Regions from separate parts of the Homo sapiens genome. Here region 1 is linked to region 2. The links come from fine-mapping of genetic effects on gene expression. A gene starts in region 2. The other region holds a variant in brackets. All regions are shown on one strand. Distances are from middle to middle.

Region 1 (9,174 bases), 73 kb before region 2:
GCAGTTCAAAAAGAGTGCAAAATTGGGGTAGAGACATGGTTCACGGCAGGCTCCAGGGCCTTACCAACGAATGGATCTGGGGTTAGCAACAGAGGAGGCAGTGAGCCTGCAGGACTGCTGCCAGCCCACAGCACGCAGGGTGAGAATTAGACAAAGACACTCAGGGTGGCTGGCTCGGTTTCAGCCTCCTCTCATCCCCTGGGTTGAATGCCCACATGCAGGGCACAACCTGAACAGCCGTTCTGAAAGGGACTGACAATGCTACGCTTTGTTTTGAGGAAGGATTTCTGAGGACTTCCTATCTCGACCTTCAGCCTTGGAAGTTTCAGGGGACTTTGTGCAGCCTGGGAGGGCTGTGCTAGCCGTGACCTCACAAGGGATCCCAGGCCTTTATGCTACTACAATTAGCCAAGAGCCAAGGTAACACGCTAGGTGACTCCAACAGTGAACAGGGGAGAAAAGGCAGACTTTAAGGGATACAAGTTAAAATAAACAAGAAAACATATATAAGCACATCTTTTCAAATCTTTTTTTTGGTTTGTTTTTTCTTTAAAAGGAGCATACCGACTTAAATTCCAGAAATTCCATTCCTTTGGCAACTTGATATGCAAAGCAAAGAAGATCTTCAAATGTAAGCACATTCAAGTCCTCCTCTTCTTCCAGCCTTTTTTGGTTTTCATATTCAATTTCATCTGTAAAATAGAGCCAGTCTTCACTTTTGCCAAAACTCTAAGAAGTTGCCTTATTAAATCTCTATGGGAAGGTTATTCAAGCCAGAGTTAGGTGAGGTGCTAAGACATGAAGCTATCGCATTATCTTCCCGGCAGCATTAGAGATGACCTGTTTATGCTGCCTATGAAGGGTCACTGGAGACTTGTTTTGGTTAGAGATAAACTTTGGAACTGCTTTGATGACCGATGACCTCCTGATTGATTAGTCAGGAGTTTTAGATACTTCTCTTTTGCACTAGGTAGGGCTGTCACAGTGGGAAAGGAATTAATATTAATTGTCTATCCCTTTTTTTTTTGAGAAGGAGTCTCGCTCTGTCGCCCAGGCTGGAGTGCAGTGACACGATCTTGGCCTGCTGCAACTGGATTCTCCTGCCTCAGCTTCCCGAGTAGCTGGGACTACAGGCTCATGCTAATTTTTTGTATTTTTAGTAGAGAAGGGTTTCACCGTGTTAGCCAGGATGGTCTTGATCTCCTGACCTCGTGATCCACCCACCTGAGCCTCCCAAAGTGGTGGGATTACAGGCATGAGCCACTGTGCCCGGCCCATCTATCCTATTTTATAAACTATATTGTGCATTTTATATTCTTCCATTTACTCCTTCCTTTTTTTTTCTTTCTTTCTTTTTTTTTTTTGAGTTGAAGTCTCACTCTGTTGCCCAGGTTGGAATGCAGTGGTGCAATCTCAGCTCACTGCAACCTCTGCCTCTTGGGTTCAAGCAATCCTCCTGCCTCAGCCTCCCAAGTAGCTGGGATTGCAGGCGTGCACCACCATACCCAGCTAATTTTTGTATTTTTAGTAGAGACAAGGTTTCTCCATGTTGGGCCAGGCTGGTCTTGAACTCCTGACCTCAGGTGACCTGCCTGCCTCGGCCTCCCAAGGCGTGATTACAGGCGTGAGCCACCACGGCCAGCCCCTCATTTACTCCTTCTAACAGTCCTGTGAGGAAGGTAGTGTTAGGCCTATTTTATAAACAAGAAAATTGTGATTCTGGTGGTCACATAACTTGTCCAAAGTCATCCAGTCAGAAAGCAAAGTAAGCAGAAGTTAATCCAAATTCTATGTAACTTCGGAACTCATTATCTCTTCCACTTGTCAGGTAATAAGATGGCTGTAATTAATATATGACTTTAAATGAATAATCTGACCAAATAAAATAGTCCTCAGTGTTTATTAGTTGAATGTTGACATAAAATCTACAGTATACAAACTGGCTTTTAGCTATCATCTGACAATTAGCAAATTTTAAAATGCTTTTGTGTTTACACACTTTTAAAAAATAGCTAACATAAAACTTTTGCATTCATTTCCATTTTAAAGTGCTACTACTTAGAATAAAATATTACCTTCAGAGTGAAATGAATTCCCATGAAGCCCTGAGATTTGATCCGAGTCCGGGTGTATCTGAACTTCTCTTGAACCAGGCATGCTATTAAAAAATTTTGTTTTTTCATTATTTACATTATTCTTCTCAGCAGACATTTTATTTTAAAAATGTAATTCATCAAATAAATGGATTCCAGTTATAAATTGACTTTTAAATTAAAAGCACACCATCCATTTGTCCATTTTTTGTGTACATTAAAAACATCTGTGTAACTGGGCTTGCCAGTCTAAGATAAAAGTAATCCCTGTTTTCCATATAGAATCTTACAGTTCAAAAAGGACCTCACTCAATCCTTGCCACAACCTATGAGATGGGTGGCATTTTATAAAAGAGAAATTAGGCACAGTGAGATAAATATGATTCGAGTGGAACCAGGACTCACATCGATCTCATTCTTTGGTTTCTGAACTCAGCCCACTTTCCCTCACATAATACAGATCTTCCCGAGAGTCCCGTAAGCGTTTCACCATCCTTCTTTTTTCCAGTTTGCCTTTGTAAAGCTCATTTCTTTTTACTGTGAAATTAATAAATAGCAATAATACAAATCTCTTTTAAGGTATATAAAAATTCTTCCCTGAGGAGCTCTGTAGGAATTATAAGTAGATCACGATTCAATTTATTCTAATATACGAGTTTAACCCAATTTACAATTTACATATCTTTAGGAAATGGCTTCATGCTTTCAGACCACAAATATTCCAAAAGGAATAATTTCAGTGTATTTAATATTCCAGTGAACAGAACGAATCAAAGGGGCTAAGTACTGACCAGTGGATACTGGTCACACACATCGGACTCAGTAGGATAGCCCCTCTGTTCCAGAATATGAGTGGCTTTATAGAGTTCTCATTTCTAGACGATGAGCTGGGAAATGAGTGTAAAGGAGAGGACGGTGTGACGGGCATGCATAGGTTAAGGGCAGCTGCACACGGACGTGCATGGGGATCTCCGTGGGGCCTGGTGGCTTTAAGACACTGGGTCTGTGTCTCAGACCTGGAAGGCCAGAGGCCTGCACTTAAAACTTACATTCTAAGAAAACAAAGCCGGGACTCTCAAATGTATCCCTAAAAAGCCCCTGGTAAAGAAAAAAGTCTCCAATAAACAAATACCCTTCAGAATAAGGGAGAACTTCCATACAGGGAGGGAAATAAGAACGCGCCAAGGCTCAGCCAGGTGCGGTGGCTCATGCCTATAATTCCAGCACTTTGCGGGGCCTAGGTGGGTGGATCAACTGAGGTCAGGAGTTCAACACCAGCCTGACCAACATGGTGAAACCCTGTCTCCACTAAAAATACAAAATTAGCTGGGCGTGGTGGCACATGCCTGTAATCTCAGCTACTCGGGAGGCTGAGGCAAGAGAATCGCTTGAACCTGGGATGTGGAGGTTGCAGTGAGCCGAGATCACACCATTGCACCACTCCAGCCTAGGCAACAGAGCGAAACTCTGTCTGAAAAAAAAAAAAAAAAAAAAAAGAATGCTCCAAGGCTCAACGAATGCCTCCATCAGAATGCCTGGGAATCCATTCAGAGAAAGGTGCTACAAAGCCATGATGCTCAAGTAATTAGCAAGAAAGTTCAAGGATGAGGAGGAGATCCAGCAAACTCCTACAGCCCTCATTTATGCCCGCTAAAGCAATAAATCCCTGCAGGACCAAGCATCTCTCAGGATCCCCATGGATGCGGAGGATAAACACAGAGCAGAGACAAGGTTACTGCTACTTTACTGTGTCCCCATCACGTGTCGATCAATCCATCCTAATATCTTAGAATCCAATTTGAGTTCAGCGTTCTTTTGCGCAATAGTCCCAGGACCCGAGCTGCTCTCTTTGCATATGTTAAGGACTTTGGAAAAAGTCTTCATTCTTTCTACCAATACCTGTGAGGCAACCAGGTGTCCTGAAAGACCGAATAATGCACCTTTCCCCAAACCAAATAGGCGTCTATGGTGTGATGCAGGCATGGGTGGAGAGAGACTAGCTCAGCTATAGTACCTGTACTGAAGGAAAGGGACAGGACTCGTTCCATGTCAACAGGGAAACTATAGCAAAGATTCAGGAAATCTCTAGGTTGCAGGACCCACAGACTTCACGGTGCCTTTAGAAACTGGTCAACGAAGTGTGTTTGAACAGCACACTTTGCCTACGTTCTATGATGTGTAATTACGAAACCCTGACCCAGCCTCTTACCTGGAATTTGGATGTGATTGGAAAGTGGGGTAAAAACTGAAATTGTGTTCCTTGAAAATCTCTGTCCAAGTCCTGTGAAATTTTTCTCTTTTACTTCTTAGATAGTTGAGAAGATCACCATAGCAACAGTATTCAAAAATCAAGTAAATTGGTCCTGAAATAGTTACAGTTTCAATTATAGGCATACACAAAGCAAACTGTTATTTCAGAAGTCTATGTAGCAGACAACATACTCTTAGGAGGGCTTGGTTCTCTGCTGACTTGGGGACAGTACAACTTTTTCTGAGCCTAGCTCTTCTTATACTTTAAATTCAGTTTCAGCTTTTGCTCAAATTTCTTTGGAAAGCAGCATCTTCTTGACATTCTCTGTGGCCCTTTTTTGTATGTGTGGCCTCACCAATACCACTGGCCTCCTGGATTCTCCAGTTGGCAACTGAAAGTAATGTTCTAGCTGTGTATTATAGGTGAACACTTGGTAACTATATGCTGATTTGCTGTTTGCTTGAGGAGGGAGAAATATATTCCCAGTCCTCTCTCAGATTCACTTTCCTCTTTTTCCTTTCTTTTAGTACCAGCCCCAGGCCTGCTGCTGCAGAAAGAATGAACCTTGGGCACATCATTTGGGTATTTCTAGGCAGAAGAGAGAAGATCAGAGGGCATGCCCCAGAGAATTCTGGGAAAGTAAAGTCTGATATCCTAGCTAGGCTGTGCCGTATTTGACGGCAGCCCAACTGGGGCAGTGGCCAGGCTCTGTAACCACTCTCACCAC[G/A]CCTGTGCACCAGCTTCCAAGCTGGGAGAGAAGCACAGACACCACCAAATGTACTTGCAATGTTGTTGTTGTTGTTGTTTTTAAGCAGGTGAGAATTATGCAATATATCACGATAAAGCAGATGAATGAGGCATTCTTTATTTTGACCCCTCTGATTTATAGAGTGCTCAGTGTCTAATTCCACTTGGGTTTGAGAGTTCACACTGTGACTGAGAAAAGACAAAGAATTAAAAAGAGAGAGAGAGAGAGAGAGAGCAAACATCCTCTTTGTCATCAAGCTACAGTCTTTTTGATGAGGTGATTTTCGTGGAAGTGGGTTACCTGACAGTGTGCACGCCCCCAGCAGGTTCACAATATTCTCGTGGCTTCCCAGCTGGGTCATCATCTTGAGTTCTGACATGAGTGCCTCTCTTTCAGAGCTGTCTGCTTTTTCTGTCAAAGAAAGGAGCATTAAAAATGTAAAACTCAAGTAAAATACGAATTTTATGTCATTAAATAAAATTTTTCTCAGCTCAGAGTCAATCTGCATTATTTATTTAAATTCAAAATTATGAGAGAAGCCAGGCATGGTGGGTCATGCCTGTAATCCCAGCACTTTGGGAGGCCGAGGTGGGTGGATCACTTGAGGTCAGAAGTTCAAGACTGGCCTGGCCAATATGGTGAAACCTCGTCTCTACTAAAAATACAAAAATTAGCCAGGCGTGGTGGCAGGCACCTGTAATCCCAGCTACTTGGGAGGATGAGGCAGGAGAATCGCTTGAATGTGGGAGGCAGAGGTTGCAATTAGCTGAGACTGCACCATTGCACTCCAGCCTGGGCAACAAGAGTGAAACTCCATCTTAAAATAAATAAATAAATAAACAAACAAACAATATCCTGTGTTTTAAGACAGAATTTCTCCTTTTTCTTTTTTTTTTTTCCTTTTCTTTCTTTCTTTTTTTTTGACACAGTATCTCACTCTGTCACCCAGGCTGGAGTGTAGTGACATGATCTCAGCTTACTGTAGCCTCTGCCTCCTGGGCTCAAGTGATCCTCCTACCTCAGCCCTCCAAGTTACTGGTACTACAAGCACAGGCCATCATGCCCAGCTAATTTTTATATTTTTTGTAGAGATGGGGTCTCACCATGTTGCCCAGGCTGGTCTTGAACTCCTAGATTCAAGCAATCCTCCCAACTCCGCCTCCCAAAGTGCTGGGAATACAGGCATGAGCCACCATGCCCAGCCTAAGGCAGAATTCAGACTGTAGTATAGGGCTGGGCGCAGTGGCTCACACCTGTAATCCCAACACTTTGGGAGGCCAAGGCGGGTGGATCACTTAAGGTCAGGAGTTGAAGACCAACCTGGCCAACATGGTGAAACCCTGTCTCTACTAAACATACAAAAAATTAGCCGGGCGTGCCGGTGCGTACCTGTAATTCCAGCTACTCAGGAGGATGAGGCAAAAGAATCCCTTGAACTGGGGAGGCAGAGGTTGCAGTGAGCCGAGATTGAGCCCCTGCACCACTCCAGCCTGGGTGACAGAGCGAGACTCTGTCTCAAAAACAAAACAAAACAAAACAAAACAAAGACTATAGTATAAATGTTGAATCTGGTAATGCACCTTTCAACAGGACTTTCCTCTACCTACCAAAATAAAAATCCTTACAGTTGGCCCTCAAAACAAACAAACAAAATAATAACACATGCTTTTCCTCCTCAGTACAAGTTAACAGAAGGGAGAAACGTCCTTTTTGTTTGTTTGTTTGAACTCTTGGATCTGTTGTAGTCAGAGAGAGATAACAGTGTCGTGAGCATGGTTGACTCTAGCCTGTGGCCCTCAGGTCTAGAACATTAGATTTGCCAGCAAGTCCAATGGGAGAAGGTCAAAGAGGACTAATTCCCACTATCAGGTGCTCAAGAGACCCATTAATTGACATTGAGAAATAAAACTGCCAAGCAGGCTAGAACATATTGGTTGGCCAATGCATTCTCTCTCTAGGGAAAATTCCAGATAGCTCAGCAAACTGTACTTATAAGCTGACTTAGAAGCACAGTGTGAGGAAAGTCACTATGGAATCCAAGGGCTCCCGTCATTGCGGCTCATGTGCAGTTGGTCAGGGCAGCCCGGGCAGCCACAGGGGCAAGGGCAGGGTCTCTGGACTTCCCTCTCCAGGCTCCAGGCACCACCCCTCTGTGAACAGACTTTTTCTTCCAGATATAGTAACTCTTCTTTACATTCAGTGAAGATTTGGTTCGATTGCCAGGTTCCATTATTTTGTCCAGGAAGGCATCCTAACCTTTATAGTGGCTTCTCCGGTGCTGACATCCTCTATTTTGGTTTGGGCAAGCTCTCAGGGGTATCCTTGTTTCCAAGATTTTAGCTTGGGGGTGGGATTTCCTGTGGGCACTGGGACCCCCTAATACATCATGTCTTCAGCTTCACGCTGGACAGGGATTCGGGGCTTTACTTGTTCATGTCCTATTCCTCATGGCTAAAATAATATCTTACATTTTTTAGCATGCTTAGCTTCTTCTAAGCATTTTCATGTACCATTACCTCTTTCATTCAGTCATTCAACAAGTATTTATTGAGTGCCTACTCTGTAAGAGCCAATGTCCTAGACACTGGGGAATGAAGGAAAAACAAGACACAACCCTTGTCTTCCTGGATCTTAGAGTCTCCTGGAGAAGGCAGAGAAGTAAATAAGCCATGACAATACAGTGCCATAAATGCAATACGGCAGGCAAGACGTGGGTCCCCGCGCCTCTAATCCCAACATCTTGGGAGGCTGAGACAAGCGGGAGAATTGCTGGTACCCAGAAGTTCAAGAAAGGCCCGGGCAAAATAGCAAGAGCTTGTCTCTACTTAAAAATAAAATAAAGTAAAAATACATAAATAAATAAAATAAAATAAAATAAAAATTAGCTGGGCTTGGTGGTGCCTGCATGTAGTTCCAGTTACTGGAAAGGCTGCAGACCATCACTTGAGCCCAGGACTTGAAGCTTGCCGTGAGCTATGATGACTTCACTGCACTCCAGCCTGGGTGACAGAGTGAGACCCTATCTCAAAAAAAGAAAAAAGAAAGAAAAAGAAAAAATGCAACGTTGGGCTGGGCACGGTGGCTCATGCCTGTAATCCCAGCACTTTGGGAGGCTGAGACAGGCGGATCACGAGGTCAGGAGATCAAGACCATCCTGGCTAACACGGTGAAACTCTGTCTCTACTAAAAATACAAAAAAATTTAGCCGGGCGTGGTGGTGGGTGCCTGTAGTCCCAGCTGCTAGGGAGGCTGAGGCAGGAGAATGGCGTGAACCCAGGAGGCGGAGCTTACAGTGAGCTGAGATGGTGCCACTGCACTCCAGCCTGGGCGACAGAGTGAGACTCCGTCTCAAAAAAAGAAGAAAAAATGCAACGTGGCAAAGGAGTGCAGGGGTACTGTAGGGTCAAAAGGGATAGCTACCTTAGCCTTGGAGGGGTGGAGAAAGGAGCATTCAATGTCTAAACTGAGTCCTGAAGAAAAATGGGAGCTGGCCAGGTGACTCATGGTGGAAGGGGAGGAGAACAGTGCTGAGGGTTGTGAAAGAGTGGGCAAAGGTCGAGAAAGGAGAGAGCACAGCACCACAGACACAGACCCTGCCCTCATGAGGCACAGGGGCTACTGGACAGATGGGACAACAATTGGATGTTAAAAAATGTCATGACAAAGGTGATGGATTCTACGGGGGAAAGCCTGCAGAGAGCTAATGTCGCACATTGCAAGGGCCTCAATATTGTCTGTGGTGTGAGACAGAGGAAGTGGTGTTTAAGCTGAGATCTGAGGGGGCAGTGGGAGATACTTACATGAAAGGGGAAGGGGAAGCAGAAGGATCCACTTGTGCAAAGGCCCCACAGTGGGTGGGAGGACAGTGCTGGGGGAACTGAAAGAAGGCCAGCGCTCTGGGGTGCCGAGAGCAAGAGGTGGGGAGGCAGCGGTGGCCCAGCCATGCGGGTGGTGGAGGAAATGTGAAGTAGGAAAGCCATTTGATCTGCTTAGCCTTTCGCCACTGTCACTTGGACCTCAGTATGGAGAAGCCAAAGGGAGGCAAGAGTGGATACAGGAACCTGCTTTGGAAGCTTTTGTCC
Region 2 (9,174 bases):
CTACAAAAAATACAAAAATTAGTCGGGTGTCATGGTGCATGCCTGTAGTCCCACAACTCAGGAGGTTGAGGTAGGAGGCTTGCTTGAGTCCGTAAGGCAGAGGTTGCAGTGAGCCGAGACTGTACCACTGCACTCCAGCCTGGGTGATAGGGCCAGGTCTTGTCTCAAAAAAAATTTAAAAAGTAGTTTTAGGGGGCAAAAAACTGGGATCCCTTTTCTGACCAGGCTAAAGCTTCCTTCATTGACGCATGCAATTTTTTTTTTTTTGAGATGGAGTCGCACTCTGTCACCAAGGGTATAGTGCAATGGCGCAATCTTGGCTCACTGCAACCTCTGCCTCCCAGGCTCAAGTGATTCTCCTGCTTCAGCCTCCCAAGTAGCTGGGATTACAAGCGTCTGCCACCACGCCTGGCTAACTTTTGTATTTTTAGTAGAAACAGGGTTTCACCATGTTGGCCAGGCTGGTCTCAAACTCCTCAAGTGATCTGCCTGCCTCAGCCTCCCAAAGTGCTGGGATTACAGGCATGAGCCATCGCACCCAGCCAGACTCATGCAATTTTTAATGTATATTTAGTAATCATAATAACTGTGTTGGAAGGTTTAATAAAAGAAAGCATACTGAAATACTTTTCCTGGGGAAAGGCAATGACCACACATTTCTTAAAAAAATAAAATTGGTTATTTATACACAAGTTCCCCTACCTCCATCTCTTTAATCTTTGTACTGCTTGTGCCTAGCAAGAAATAGGTATTCTGTCAGGCACGGTAGCTCACACCTGTAATCCTAGCACTTTGGGAGGATCACTTGAGCCCAGGAGTTCAAGATTAGCCTGAGCAATACAGTGAGATCTCATCTCTACCAAAAAATTTTTCAAAAAATTAATGAGGTGTGGTGGCACGTGCCTGTGGTCCCAGGTACTCAGGAGGCTGAGGTAGGAGGCTTGCTTGAGCCCAGGAGGTTGAAGCTGCAGTGAGCTGTGATCACACCACTGCACTCCAGCCTCAATGACAAAGGGAGACTGTCGAAAGAAAGAAAGAAAAAGAAAGAAAGAAAGGAAGGAAGGAAAGAAGGAAGGAAGGAAAAAAATGGGTATTCAATTAAAGTTTGTTAAATAAAAACAGATTTTTTCTTCCTAATGCATGTTTTCTCTTCATTTTTCTTATCTGAAGTCTTCCCTTGGAATATAAGTAAGTCTTCCTCCTTCCCATTTAATATCTCATTGCCTGATTGTTTTTCAGTTTAAACAACAGGAGAATCCAATAACAAATATTTACCAATAGCTAAGAGTTACTGAAAGTGCCTTCTTAGTTATAAAAAGTTAATCCATTTTTAATGTAAGGCAAGAAGTTCACAATTAAACCTAAGAGGATAATTTACTATAGATAGACGTGAAGTACCTAAAAAGAAATGAATATCCAATCTACACCTATATAATGGCAAAAATTAGAACTAGAGTTTCAGAGTCAGAGGGGACATTAATGTCAGGTCGGCAGGTCTGGGCTCACATCCAATCCAAACCAAGCTTTGCTGAGTGTCCCTTCCCTCCACTTTCTCCTGAATCATTCCCCCTTGGGCTAGGAGTTTCCAAGAAGGCAAATAAACTAAGATAAGCAACAAGAGCAAAGAATGGCAACTCAAATGTGCAGTTCAAGGCTTTGAATACGAATTTTTTTTAACACTAATGAAAAAGGTAGTATCATAGCTCTTAAAATATTGAAATACTTCTCTCTGTCCAGTATCAGCAGATAATGCAGAAAAGCCCATTGGGAACATGTTCCTCTCCTTCAAATGCCACTTAGAAAGCTTCATCATTATTCATAAATGATGAATAGAAGTCTGGGCATGGCCGGGTGTGGTGGCTCATACCTGTAATCCCAGCGCTTTGGGAGGCTGAGGTGGGTGGATCGCCTAAGGTCAGGAGTTCGAGACCAGCCTGGCCAACATGGTGAAACCTCGTCTCTACTAAAAATACAAAAATTAGCTGGGTGCGGTGGCACGCACCTGTAATCCCAGCTACTCAGGAGGCTGAGGCAGGAGAATCGCTTGAACCTGGGAGGCGGAGGTTGCAGTGAGCTGAGATCGCGCCACTACACTCCAGCCTGGGTGACAGAGCAAGACTCCGTCTCAAAAAAAAAAAAAAAAAAAAAAGTAGTGTTTACAATATAAGGGAAATTGGGATCCCATGTTCTAATTCAAAGAATTTAAGGCTATTAACCATTTTAAAGTTCTCATGTTTAAGCTTCTCACTTTATCCTTCTTTATTCAAGAAAATCCATAATACAAAGTATTGGCAAAGATGTGAGGAACTGGAACTGCCATACACTGCTAGTGGGAGTGGAAATTGGTGTAACCACTGTGGAAAACCGTTTGACGGTATCTACCAAACCTGAACATATCCCTTCCCTATGATCCAGGAATTCTACTTGTGGGCATAATCCTTTATACTGGTGTTTATGTCCACCATATATAAAACAATGTTCACAGCAGTGCTATGCATAATTACACAAAATTGGAACAACTTCCATGTGCTTCGTGAACATAATGGATAAAATAAATTATAAGATCTATTCATACCACGGAATGGTACCAGCAATTAAAAAAAAAAACACTGCTACAGAGAACAAGGTTGAATCTTATTATTATAATGTTGAGTAAAAGAAGGTGGACATAAAAGAGCACACGATGATGGTTTGGTTTACATGAAGTTCAAACATAGGCAAAAGCAATCCATGGCATCAGAAGTCAGAATAGTGGCTACCTGGGGAGGGGGTACTGACAGAGAGGGTGGAGCTAGAATTGCTCTATATCTCAGTCTGATCGTGGTTATTTGGGCACGTACATATGTGAAAACTAATGAAATTGTACTCTTAAGATGTGTGCATATTTACTGTGTGCCAATTATACTTCATTTAGAAATATCTGGAGAGAGAGACATAGAAATTTCTGAATTCTTTCCTAAATAGAAAAGAATTCCATGCAGCTTAAATATCGTTGCAAGTATTGATGCTTATACCTTTAGAAAGCCCATTATGCTTCTGAAAAATGCACTTACTACTTAATATCATACATAATAGAAAGCTAACATTTTGTATTAACGGAATCTGGAAAACATATTGTACTACACATTTGAAATTACAGATTTACTAACTAGTAAAGATAACTATTTAAGAACTAAAATGTCTTTGTTTTTCAACTCTTTTCCCCCGATTTCCATTTTTTACTTTTTATATTTCAGAATTATTTGTAACAAAAGCTATTGGATATAATTCCTGCACTTCTATATTGCAAGCATTTTCTCTATTTACCACAGAGACTTCAAGTCCTAGCATTTCAGAGCTGAAGGGGACTCGGACGGACTCCCTCACTGCACAGATGAGGACGCGGAGGCCGGGGGAGGTGAGTGTCAGTCCCAAGGTTGCAGACCTAGGACAGGGACCGGAGCTGCCGGGCACCCAGAACTCTGTCGCCTTCAACCCAAATTCGATTCAGTCCTCTCATCTTTCCAAATAGAAAGCTGACGCGAACCGATGGGAAGATTTTTTTTTTCAATAACAACTATGCTACCCAGCAGATTCTTTGGGGACAGTCCTCGGAGTCCTTGAAAACCCCTTTGGGGTTTATGCCAGGATAAGAAGAGACTAGAAGAAAGGGACAGCTAGTATTTTAATATGTAAATCTGTTTGCATAATATTTCCTAGGTAAACTATTCGTTGATCCAACCAAAATTCGGCGGGGCTGGGGGGTATCGTTATTGAGGATGACTCGCTCTAGGGGAGAACGCGGACGCATTTTCCCATCAGAGTTCCCTCCATAAATCAAAACCTCAAAAGAAGAGTTAAAGACGACACCCAGGTGTCTACAGTATCCAAGGGCCGGGCCAGGAGAGGTCCTTGGCCACCTGGCGCCGAGTTCGCGGCCGCAGACTCCCACGGACGGCCCAGCACCCGAGCGCGCGGGCCGAGCTGCCCCAGACCCGGCGCAGCGCCTCGGCGAGGCCGTCTGCGAAGTCCGGGCCGCCACTCGGGACCGCGGCCCGAGCCAGAGGAGAGACTTCGGAGAAGAGGGAAGAGGACGCGGGGTGGGAAACGCCGGGGCCGCAGGCAAGTAGTGGGCGAGTCCGGAGGGCGCGAAAGAGGGGAGGGGCGCGGGAGGCAATGGAAGGAGCGAGCGCGGGGAGGAGCGAGGCGGCTGGGCCGGAGGAGGCGCGCGCCCGGGTCCACACTGCGGGGTGGGGGCTGAGGGACCGCGAGGGGCTGCGAGCGAGCGAGCGGGGCCTTACCGAGCAGCGGCAGCTGGCCGCCGTCGCGCGCCAACGCCGGCATGGCCTCCGGAGCCCGGGGTCCCCAGGCCGCGCCGGCCCAGCCCTGCGATGCCGCCTGGAGCGGCGCGCCTCGCGCTGCAGGTGGCTCTCTTAAGGATGCGCGTCACCGACCGCAAATTCCCTCGGACTGGTGCAAAGTGGAAGGGGGGAGGAACCCTCTCCCCAGAGGCAGGGACCGAGGCGGGAGCGGAGAGGTTGGGCAGAGCCGAGCAGCCGGTGCCTGGCGCAGCGCTGCAGCCGAGCCCACGTGCCCGCCGCGGTCCGCAGCCTGTGCTCGGCGGCCCCCGGGGCTCCCCGACTGCGGCGGGGAAGATTGGGCGCGGTCCCGCCGGAGAAGTTGCACTGGCTCCGCGGCTCTGCCGCCTTGCTGCCCCTGTGAGTCCCCGAACTCTGTCGTTTGGATCCGGGGCGTGGGGACTGCAGGGAGCCACAAACCACCCTCCTAGTGCGCTGGGATCTTTGAGGCCCTGAGAAAGGCGCTGAATCCGCTCGGCACGCTGGCAACTCCCGCCAGCGCACAGGCGAGCATTCCATTAAGAACCATTCCATTCTTAATTGTGGACTGATTTCCTTTGTCTCTGCCTCCATCTCCTAGGATGCTCAGGACCCAGTCAGCGGCGGGATCAAGAAAAACAGGCAGGGTTTCAATGTCAACCAAGGCAATTAGGGAGGTTAACAAACAGCCTTCAAAACAAAACACACAGAAAATACATCCCAGAGGATGTTGCGAATCATCCGCTCAATAGTTCTTGTTCTTCATCGCATAATTTTTCGAGTTGAAAATTATTATTATTTTCTTTGCAATAAGTTGAGGATTGGAAAGCTCTGGATGCCAGTTCTGGTTCTTCCCTTACTTAACTAGCCGTTTGACCTCCACAAACCTCTGTTTACTCATCGTAAAGGAAAGGGATGGACCAAATGGTTCATAATGTCTCTCCCAATTCTAGGAATTCCACGCTCTTAATTATTTTAATTATTTTCTAATAAAGCATGAAAATTGACTGTTTACTCTTGGCCATACAGTTCTTTTCCTTAGATGTTGTCTACAGTACAATAATTCTTTCCCCTAGGGTATGGCAGAAACTTTAGAAGTGTCTACCATGGTGCAGCCACTATGGAAAACACTATAGAGGTTTCTCAAAAAATTAAAAAAAATACGGTCCAACAATTCCATTTCTGGCCATGTAGCCAAAAGAATTGAAAGCAGGGTCTTGAAGAGATGTCTGTACACCCGTGTTGAAAGCAGCATTATTCACAGTAGTCAAAAGGCAGAAGTAACCCATGTCCACAACAGATGAATGATAAACAAAAATGCAGTATATACATACGACTGAGTATTTTTCAGCTTTAAAGAGGAGGGAAATTCTGATACAGCTAAAATATGGATGAATCTTGACATTATGCTAAGTGAAATAAGCTAGTCCCAAAAAATACAATACTGTATCCCATTACAAATTCATAAAGACAGAAAGTTAAATGGTGGTTACCATGGGCTGGGGGCAGGGGGAAATGGGGAGCCAGTGTTTAATGGATACAGAGTTTCAGTTTTGCAAGATGAGCAGAGTTCTGGAGACTGGTTGCACAACAATGTGAATGTACTTAACGCTACTAAACTGTACACTTAAAAATGGCTAAGGCTGGGTGCGGTGGCTCATGCCTGTAATCCTAGCACTTTGGGAGGCCGAGGTGGGCAGATCACCTGAGGTCAGCAGTTCGAGACCAGCCTAGCCAACATGGTGAAACCCCATCTCTACAAAAATGCAACAATTAGCCAGGCGTAGTGGCGCATGCCTGTAATCCCAGCTACCTGGGAGGTTGAGGCAGGAGAATCACTGGAACCCGGGAGGCAGAGGCTGCAGTGAGCTGAGATCACACCACTGCACTCCAGCCTGGGTGACAGAGTGAGACTCTGTCTCAAAAACAAAAACAAAAACAAAAAGTTAAGATGGTAAATTTTATGTATGTGTATTTTACCTCAATTTTAAATTTTTTAAGTTTTTGTGTAGCTGCTGGGGGTTTAAAAATTTTTTTAAAGAGTGTTGTGTCTACCTTAGGTCAGAAACAGAAGTGAAGGAAGATGGCCTGAAATAAGTGAAACATGAGGAGATAAAGCAATGAAACAGGCTGGTTATGGGGAGAAAAGCGAGCTTCCAATGGCCAAGACCTAACACACTACCTTCTATTTAAAGCTCAATTACTGTCTTAAAGGAAACTGATTGGCTGGGCGCTGTGGCTCATGCCTGCAATCCCAGCGCTTTGGGAGGCCAAAGCGGGTGGATCATTTGAGGTCAGGAGTTGGAGACCAGCCTGACCAACATGGTGAAACCCCATCTCTAACAAAAATACAAAAATTAGCTGGGCATGGTGGCACTGTAGTCGTAGCTACTTGGGAGGCTGAGGCAGGGGAATTGCTTGAACCCAGGAAGCAGATGTTGCAGTGAACTGAGATCATGCCACTGCACTCCAGCCTGGGCAACAGAGCAAGACTTGGTCTTCGCCGGGCGTAGTGGCTCATGCCTGTAATCCCAGCACTTTGGGAAGCTAAGGCAGGTGGATCACGAGGTCAGGAGTTCAAGACCAGCCTGGCAAAGATGGTGAAACCTGTCTCTACTAAAAATACAAAAAATTAGCCAGGCGTGGTGGCATACGCCTGTAATCCCAGCTACTCAGGAGGCTGAGGCAGAGAATTGCTTAAACTTGGGGAGCGGAGGTTGCAGTGAGCCAAGATCGCGCCACTACACTCCAGCCTGGGCGACAGAGGGAGATTCCGTCTCAAAAAAATAAATAAATAAAATGAAAAACTAAAAAAAAAATGAAACTGATTATTACAAATTTGCAGAACATCAGCTTGAGTGCAGCAGTATTCAGGATACAAAATCATAAAGATACTGCTGCTTTGTCCAAGAATCTTGGACACAAGGCAGAGATCTTCATGAAAAAGGGGGTTGGTGAGAGAGGAGAAGTTAGGAATGGTTTCTTTTTTTGAGACAGAGTCTTGCTCTGTCGCCCAGGCTAGAGTGCAGTGGCACGATCTAGGCTCACTACAACCTCCGCCTCCCGGGTTCAAGCGATTCTCCAGCCTCAGCCACCTGAGTAGCTGGGATTACAGGCACCCGCCACTGCGCCCAGCTAATTTTGTATTTTTAGTAGAGAAGGGTTTCACCATCTTGGCCAGGCTGGTCTCAAACTCCTGACCTCGTGATCCACCCTCCTTGGACTCCCAAAGTGCTGGGATTACAGGTGTGAGTCACCGCGGCCAGCCAGGAATGGTTTCTAGGAACACTTGATTTTCCGTGGAAATTGGTGGAAAAAATAATTCTAGAAGGAGCAAATCTTATAGACTGAAATATTTTGGAGTATGAGGTATAGGCTAACAGAAGGTGAAGTAATGCCCATGTTTTTCTGTGATGTGCCAAGAGTCATATCTAATATGAGAACTAATTTCTTCCTCACAGCAACACTTAAGGAAAGTAGCCTGAAATTGTCTAGAGTCCTGGATTACACGCCCAGGTATGCATGCCCAAGTATGAAATTTTGGTGTCAGAGTTCATGATAGGAATTCTGTAATAAAGAAACTCTTAAAGGGTCAAAAGCAACTAGAAGAAATGAGCTGAAACGGGAAATCGGAAAAGAGAAGAGTAAGTTTGTTTCTGGGTTGAATGGAGTGTCTAGTGCTAACTCTACGAAAGGATGTATTTTATCTAGATTCTTAGCACCATGATGCTTAGCCATGAGTAAGTGGTCATCTATCTTACCAGCATCTTGATACCATGTTTCCACCCCTTAAGTCACACAAATATCTCCTCTCCCTTTCCTCTCTCTCTCCAAAAATTGTGACATAGTTTCGTAGCAGCTCACAGGTGAAATACTTTCATGTCATTTTTAACTTACAAAGCCTTATGTTTTCCTGAAAATCAGGGACAAACAAAAGGAATATTTGAATAGGGTTCATGTGAGTTCAGTTGAGATATCAACTTTATAGTATAATTTTACACATCTTTTATTAATAGGGGCTTTGAACTCACCAATTGGCAAAATCTGACAATACAAAGTGTTGACAAGAATTCAGAGCAATGGAGAACACCCACACACTGTTGGTGGACATCCCAATGGGTGTGAGCACTTTGAAAAATAATTTGGCATATCTTACTAAAGTTGAACATATCCTCCAGCCAGCAGTTTCACCCCCAGATATAAACCTCAAAGAAACACATATGTGCCAAGAGACAAGTATAAGAATGTTCATAGCATTATTGTTTATAATATCAAAAAATTGGGAACAATCTAAATGCCCACCAACAAAAGGATAAATTGCAGTACAGTCATAATAAAATACCTATATATTAAATAACAGTGTAAATGAATGAGCTACAGTTACCTGACACACCATGAATGAATCTCAAAAACATAATGTTGAGGGGGAAAAGCAAGTCATGGAATAATAGACATAAAGGCGGAAGCAAACAATATTCTCCTTAGGAATACATTCATAGGGGTATAAGGAAAGTAAAGGAATAATTACCACAAAAGTCAGGATTGTGGTTACGTCTGGTATGGGGTGGGAAGAGGAGGTTTAATTAGAGAAGACAAACTGGGGATTTCTGAGGTGCTAACATACCCTATTGTTGTTTTGCGATAGGGTCTTGCTACACTGCCCAAGCTGGAGTGTAATGGCTATTCACAGGCACGACCATAGCTCACTGCAGCCTTGAACTCCTGGGCTCAAGCCTCTGGGTAGCTGGGACTACAGGTGTGGACCACCATGTCCAACCACACCCTATTTTTTTTTAACCTCTGTGGTGGGTGCTGGATGTTCATTTTATTGTTATTCTTTAAACTATGTAATTATTTT

Alleles and levels. Positions count from the first base shown, and alleles are read on the strand shown. Sizes are in standard deviations (SD) of each study's normalised expression.
In carriers of allele G in region 1, the expression in cerebellar hemisphere of the gene that starts at base 4,389 in region 2 tends to be lower than with A alone (large effect, 1.1 SD a copy in GTEx).

What was found. PIP is the estimated chance that this variant, and not a neighbour inherited with it, causes the effect. A credible set is the group of variants that fine-mapping cannot tell apart.
Region 1: its variant is the best candidate, but not a certain one, in a credible set for the expression of FLT3 in cerebellar hemisphere (GTEx, PIP 0.90).

What each region holds. Positions count from the first base shown.
Region 1 is chr13:28,022,786-28,031,959 of GRCh38, forward strand. FLT3 (fms related receptor tyrosine kinase 3) reads right to left here. Exons shown (of 24, transcript NM_004119.3): 16 at 5,393-5,503; 17 at 4,303-4,456; 18 at 2,076-2,158; 19 at 565-692. Among named protein-coding and RNA genes, the nearest start is that of URAD, 39 kb to the left of the region's middle. RefSeq lists enhancers at 1-153, 154-686. The variant G/A (reference allele first, on the strand shown) is at 5,072.
Region 2 is chr13:28,096,188-28,105,361 of GRCh38, forward strand. FLT3 (fms related receptor tyrosine kinase 3) reads right to left here and starts at 4,389. Exons shown (of 24, transcript NM_004119.3): 1 at 4,281-4,389. The coding sequence starts at 4,323. RefSeq lists silencers at 4,223-4,382, 4,503-4,562 and an enhancer at 4,673-4,802.